Homo sapiens: one gene and its partner. The protein of the gene in region 2 purifies or fractionates together with the protein of the main gene of each other region. This does not show direct contact. Each region holds a gene or a part of one and is shown on either strand. Other genes may lie near its edges.

Evidence for each region. Proteins that work in one complex are often made in the same cells at the same time.
Region 1: the proteins of SLF1 (region 2) and SIMC1 purify together in Homo sapiens (co-immunoprecipitation; one large-scale study listed by IntAct). This does not show direct contact.

Annotation. Positions count from the first base shown.
Region 1 is NC_000005.10:176,241,424-176,244,923, reverse strand, and holds part of SIMC1 (SUMO-interacting motif-containing protein 1), read right to left. Parts: intron 1-3,500.
Region 2 is NC_000005.10:94,684,669-94,688,168, reverse strand, and holds part of SLF1 (SMC5-SMC6 complex localization factor protein 1), read right to left. Parts: intron 1,597-3,500; coding exon 1,451-1,596; intron 1-1,450. UniProt on the Homo sapiens protein: Plays a role in the DNA damage response (DDR) pathway by regulating postreplication repair of UV-damaged DNA and genomic stability maintenance.

The DNA.
Region 1 (3,500 bases), about 82 Mb from region 2:
CATGGTAAAACCCTGTCTCTACTAAAAATATAAAATTAGCTGGGCATGGTGGCACATGCCTGTAATCCCAGCTGCTTGGGAGTCTGAGGCAGGAGAATCACTTGAGCCAGGTAGGTGGAGGTTGCAGTGAGCTGAGATTGCGCCATTGCACTCCAGCCTGGGCAACAAGAGTGAAACTCCCTCTCAAAAAAAAAAAAAAAAAAAGGAAAAAAAAAAAGAAACATTATAACACTGCAACAGAAAAATGGGCAAAGGACAAGCATAGGGAATTTGCACACATACCCTATGTGTTTCCAATAAACATAAGCAAGATGTCTGGCTGTACTGCATGTGAGCACACTCCTTTATCTCCAACCTCACTAGCTGCTCTTCCTCCCTTGGGACACTATGGTGTTCCCTTGGGCTAGGTTCTGGATGTTCTTCCTCTTGTCACCTCAACCTAGATGATTTTATCCAGGTCAATGACTTCACTATAACCTATGCGCTAACAAGACTAAATTTGTATCTCTAGTCAGGACTTTTCTTCAGAGCTCTAAACTCAGTACAAATGTTATACTTGGCATCTCCAGTTGGCTATTCCACAGGCATCGTTAAGTTTTATACCTTCAAAACAGAACTCTTGAATCTTTCCTCTAACCCTGTTCCTCCCAAGTCTGCTTCATTTCAATGCATGACACCAACATGCATTCAGTTGCTCAAGCCAGAACTCAGGGCATCCTTCTTCATTCCTTCCTTTCCCTTGTTATCCACATCCAAGTTATCAGGACCTGTTGATTTTATTTACTAAATATCTACATCCCTCCACTCTCCCAGTCTGTACCACCACTCCAGTCCAAGCTACAGTTATTTCTGACCTGGACTACTACAGCCAACCTTCTAACTGATCTCCCTAATTTCACTCTTCCCCTCTTACAGTAGGGTGACTACACTTCTGCTTTGTTTGGGACAGTTCCAGTTTTCACCTGTTGCTTGACATCCTGGTCCAGTTAGCATCCCTTTTCATTTGCAAAAGTTTCCCAATTGGATGATAAATTATATGGTCTCCCTACCTTACCATCTTTTCTTTTCACAGTAGCTAAAGTCATCTCTAAAAAATGTAAATCAAGGCTAGGTGCAGTGGCTCACGCCTGTAATCCCAGCACTTTGGGAGGCCGAGGCGGGTGGATCATGAGGTCAGGAGATCTAGACCATCCTGGCCAACATGGTGAAACCCCGTCTCTACTAAAATACAAAAAATTAGTCAAGCGTGGTGGTGTGCTTGTAGTCCCGGCTACTCGGGAGGCTGAGGTGGGGGAAATTGCTTGAACCTGGGAAGTGGGGGTTGCAGTGAGCCGAGATCGCACCACTGCACTACAGCCTGGGCAACGCAACAGAGCAAGACTCCATCTCCAAAAAAAAAAAAAGTAAATCAAATCATGTCACTGTCCTGCTTAAACCTTCAAAGATTTCTTACTGTATTACAATAAAATCCAAATCCCTTATTGTGGTCTCCAAAGCCCTATAACCTAACCTACCTACTTCTCATCTCTTCTGACTCTGTCCATCAGTCGTTACATTGCAGCCTCACTGGCTTTCCATTCTTCCAGTAAGTCATGCTCATTCCCGCCTCCAAACTTTTGGTTTTGTTGTTCCCTTTGACAATGCCTTATTCATCTAGATCTTATAACTAATTTGTTGTCATTTTAGTCTCAGGTCAAATATTAACTCTTCAGAGAGGCCTTCTCTGAAAACACAATCAAATGTTCCCAATCCCACCAAAGTTACTATTATACTGTTCTCTTATTTGTTAGTTTGTTTACTGCCTATCTTTCCACAGTAGAATGTAGTTCCATTATCATCTTGTTCACCTCTGGTCCCCAGGGTTACAGCATATGCTCAATAAATATTTATTGAATAAATGAATCATAATAAAAAAATAAAAAATAATGACATCTTATGGAATCTGGCTATCAAACAGCAAAGATTAAAAGAACAAAAATACCGTATTTTTTCCCCTAACACTCTGTATTATCACCTGACATTACATTTATAGTGTTGTTTACTATCTGTGTCCCCTCAGTAAAATGAAATCTCCATGACGGCAGGGACTTGGTTTTCATAGATGTATTCCCAGCACCTCTAAGAGTGCCTGGTATATAATAAGTGTTCAATAAATATTTATGGAATAATGTAACAATACCTAGGGGTGACTAGGCAGCAGAGAAAGAGATATGATTGGCCATATACCACTGGTAAGAATATTAATGCACAATTTCTGTAGGAAATTTGGCAATACAGTTGATTCATGAACAACACAGGTTTGAACTGCATGGGTCCACTTACAAGAGAGTTTTTTTCAATAAATATATTGGAAAATTTTTTGGCGATTTATAACAATTTGGAAAACTCACAGATGAACTCCACAGCCTATAAAAATTGAAAAAAACTAAGAAAAAGATATGTCCTGAATGCATAAAATATATGTAGATACTAGCCTATTTTATCCATTTACTACCATAAAATCAACACAAATCTATTATACAAAGTTAAACTTTATCAAAATTTATGCACACAATCACTTACTGACCATAGATGGTGACATCTGCAGTTGACAGAAATGTAAAGATGCAATATTAACTCACAACTGCATATTTTTAAATTCATTATTTTTTTCTTTTTAATTTGTATCACAACTGCATAAAATTTACCATAGACTACACTGTACTACCGTGATAATAATGTCCTACTACCACAGACATCTGCTGCTGCTGTGGTGGGCTCAAGTGTTGTGAGGATCCACTTAAAACGCCACGTGACACTAATCAATTTCTGCACTACTTCCCAGTAAACTGTGTATCACGGTAACAAGTGTTCTCTCCTGGGTTTTTTTCCACATATACTTGTTTAATCATGTGTAGGGTAATATCGTAAACCTTGAATAACACCATGAAACCCATACAAAGTGCTTAGTGATGCTGGATGTGCTCTCAAGAAACAGAGAAAAGTCATGACATAAGAAAAGCTGAATCGCTTGAGATGTACCGTAGATAGAGGTCTGCAGCTGTGGTTGTCCCCTATTTCAGACAGATGATTTATCTTGTAAACAGACGATGTAAACCTATGGTATTGACAAATGCAGTATAGTACTGTAAATGTATTTTATCTTCCTTATGATCTTAACATTTTTCTCTTGCTTACTTTATCGTAAGAGTCCATATAACATACAAAACATGAGTTAACTGCTTATGTTACTGGTAAGGCTTCCAGTCAACAGTAGGCCACTGGTAGTTAAGTTTTCGAGGAGTCAAATGTTACATGTAAATTTTCAACTGCACGGGGGGGTTAGCAACCCTAATCCCCGTGTTCTTCAAGGGTTAGCTACATATAAAGTAGGGCACACCTTTTGACTCAGCAATCTAACTTCTAAGAGGAACTTAATAAACAAATGAACAAGAGTACAAAGATTATGAGGGAATTTTTCACTGGGTTCTTAGAGAAAATTTAGAAACGAAGGCATAATA
Region 2 (3,500 bases):
ATTTTGTAATTTCCATTCTGATAATGCCTTGAACAGAAAACAAGTCTTTCTTCAACAGAAAACAAAATAAGGAATAAAAACATCCTTAAAGGATTGTTGCAAAACAGAATTTGACTAATATCTAAAGATATTAATATCTAAAGATAGATATTAATATCTACATATCTAAATTAATATTGCCTTATTAATAATAATAAATAATTATTATTAAATATTAATATCTAAAGATAGCCAAAATAAAACTGGAAAACTTTAAATCAAATGTAGCTTATATGCATAATATTTTGCTTTTTAAATACCATTTAGAATTTTGTTGGATCTAGTTCTTTCCAAAATAATAACCTATGTAGGAATTTTATTAGGAAACAAGGATTTTTTAGTTTTCTATGATCAACCCTTGGCTACGCTCAAAAGTAATTAAAATTTCTTTTTCCTTTCTTTTCTTTCTTTGTTGTTGTTGTTGTTGTTGTTGTTGTTGAGACAGGGTCTTAGTGTGCCACCTAGGCTACAGTACAGTGGTTATCACAGGTCACTGCTGCCTCGACCTCCTGGGATTAAGGATCCTCCCACCTCAGCCTCCCGAGTAGCTGGGACCACAGGCATGTGCCACCATGCCCAGCTAATTTAACTTTTTTTTAGAGACAGAGTATTGCTATGTTGCCCAGGCTGGTCTCGAACTCCTGGGCTCAAGGGATCCTCCTGCCTCAGCTTCCAAAAGTGTTAGAATTATAGGCAGGGGCCATCATGCTCGGCCTTAAAATTTCTATTTGGTGATTACCTTCCCCCCACTGCCCCTGGAGAAGGGGTCTCACTATGTTGTCCAGGATGGAATGCAGTGGCTATGCACAAGTGCAACCATAATGCACTACAGCTTCAAATTCTGGGGATTAAGCAATCCTCCCGCCTCAGTCTCCTGAGTAGCTGGAACTACAGGCACTCACCTGCAGGCACTCACCTACAGGCACTCAGCACGGCCGCTGGCTTTCATTACTCTAATTAGAGACAGAAATATACTAGCTTTTATACAGAATTGAAATATTTATGAATTAATATATTCTGCCTACTTACTTGAAATAACTAAGAATTTTTTAAAATTGAGTTTGTGGGCCAGGCGTGGTGGCTCACGCCTGTAATCCCAGCACTTTGGGAGGCCGAGGCAGGCAGATCACGAGGTCAGGAGATCGAGACCCCGTCTCTACTAAAAATACAAAAAAATTAGCTGGGTATGGTGGTGGGCGCCTGTAGCCCAGCTACTCGGGAGGCTGAGGCAGGAGAATGCCATGCACCCGGGAGGCGGAGCTTACAGTGAGCCGCGATTGCGCCACTGCACTCCAGCCTGGGCGACAGAGCAAGCCTCCATCTCAAAATAAATAAATAACTAAATAAATAAAATTGAGTTTGTGAACTCACTTCTTGAAAATGTAAAGAACCAGAATAGAGAGGTACTTACCATTTTCTGAAGAGAGAGTGGCTCAGAAGAAACACTGCCAGAGCTCTGTAGACACAACTTTTTAAAGACTGCCTCTGCAACAAACATTTGAAGCCAGGAGGAGGAAAAGGAGCAAATGAAAATCTCTAATTCCTGTGAAGAAAAGTCTGGAGAACATAAGGTAAGTTAATATAGTTATTGCTGTATCCTATACAATTTTTTCCATAGGCTATTTCCTTAGTGAAGTTTATTCTGTCAAATGAGAGCTCTTACACCTATAAGATTCATCCACATGATTTTAATCCACAAAAAATAGGTCATATCACTATTCCTTGACTTTTAAGAGAAAATATTTAATGGCACATGTTCTCACACTTGAAAAAAACAATCATTAGGTTTGATTATTTCAGATACAAGTCTTGAAATTACATATATACAGATTAGGTAATATATGAATATATAGAGGGGATTTTATTTATCACTATACTTTCCAACTACCATTAAAGATCTCTTCCCACAATAGGGATGCTTCTTTGGAAAACCAGTAATTAGTTTTTAAATGAACATACAAGTATTTAATTTGCAATGATCAGTACTGAGTTGACAGGAAGAAAGTAGACTGCTTCCTATGACAACACCCATGAATCTTATCACTGCAGAAAAGGAGGAAAGGCACAAGGTAAAGAAGAAAAACATGAAACAAGAAGAAACGCACAAGGTAAAGAAGAAAAACAAGAAAGGCACAAGGTAAAGAAGAAAAACATGAAACGAGCATGTATAAAGAAAAACATGAAACAGGAGCATGTATAAAGAAGAAAAACATGAAACGAGCATGTATAACGACTTCCTCAGAAGTTTGCACCCACTCTACTATGGGGGATGGTGGATAATTTTTTTTTTTTTTTTGAGACGGAGTCTCGCTCTGTTGCCAGGCTGGAGTGCAGTGGTGCGATCTCGGCTCACTGCAACCTCCGCCTCCCAGGTTCAAGCGATTCTCCTGCCTCAGCCTCCCAAGTAGCTGGGACTACAGGTGCGTGCCAGATGGTGGATAATTTTAAATGATGAAACAAAAAACAAGAAAACACCAAGAGCCTCAAATATCTTCTACAAAACCTCAAGAACTTCAATAAGAAGAAAATGCATAAATATACCCATGAATTCAAAGTGATAAAGGAGTGACTATTTCCCATGTGATCTATTTAATATTATAAACTATTAATATTCTCTATGTAACATAATGAAAATGCAACAAAATGATAATGAAAGAATAAATAAGACCAACCAAGAGGATATCAAAAAAGCTAAAATTACAAACAATATAAAAAAGTTGTGATATTATACAATAAGGGAGATTAACTATAAATACTGGAAGAATAAAGAATAAGTCAATACAGTTAGCAAAGTAAACATAATAAACAGCAGAAGAGAAGAATTAAAATTATAAGCATTAAGTTAAAATATAGTTTTAAAATCAGACAATGATAAACTTAATAGCAGTATAAGGCATAAAAGCTGGCCTCTCTATTCAGGGGTGGAATTCTTTCAGCGTGAAGAGAATGCAGACACCCAGTCAATGTCCTGCTCAGATGCCTTCATAAAAGGCTGGGGCTCTAGTGTCTTGTAGTCCTTGACCCTTGACTCTGATTTTCAATAGTGGATGGGAGAAGTAAAAGAGGATTTGCTCTCAGGTAACATTTGGTAATTTCTGGTTGCCACATTGGGGAAAGGGATGCTATTGGCATCTAGTGGGCAAAGGCCCAGGACGCTGCAATACACAGGACAGCCCCAACAACAAATAATTATCCAGCCCAAAACATAATCAGTATACAGGCTGAGAAACTTGCCTTGACTAAAGAGATCTGATGCCCTTGCCTTGTGGCAGCTTGTCATAAGGAGTGTTTAAACCTTTGGGCAAATGGCTTCAGGTCAGATGTTAACCAGATACAACTAACCCCAAACAGATATATTATCACTGAATTTAGATAATCCCTTCCAATATGGCCTCTACAGAGATACTTTTTTTTTTTTTTTTTTTTTTTTTTGAGACAGAGTCTCGCTCTATTGCCCAGGC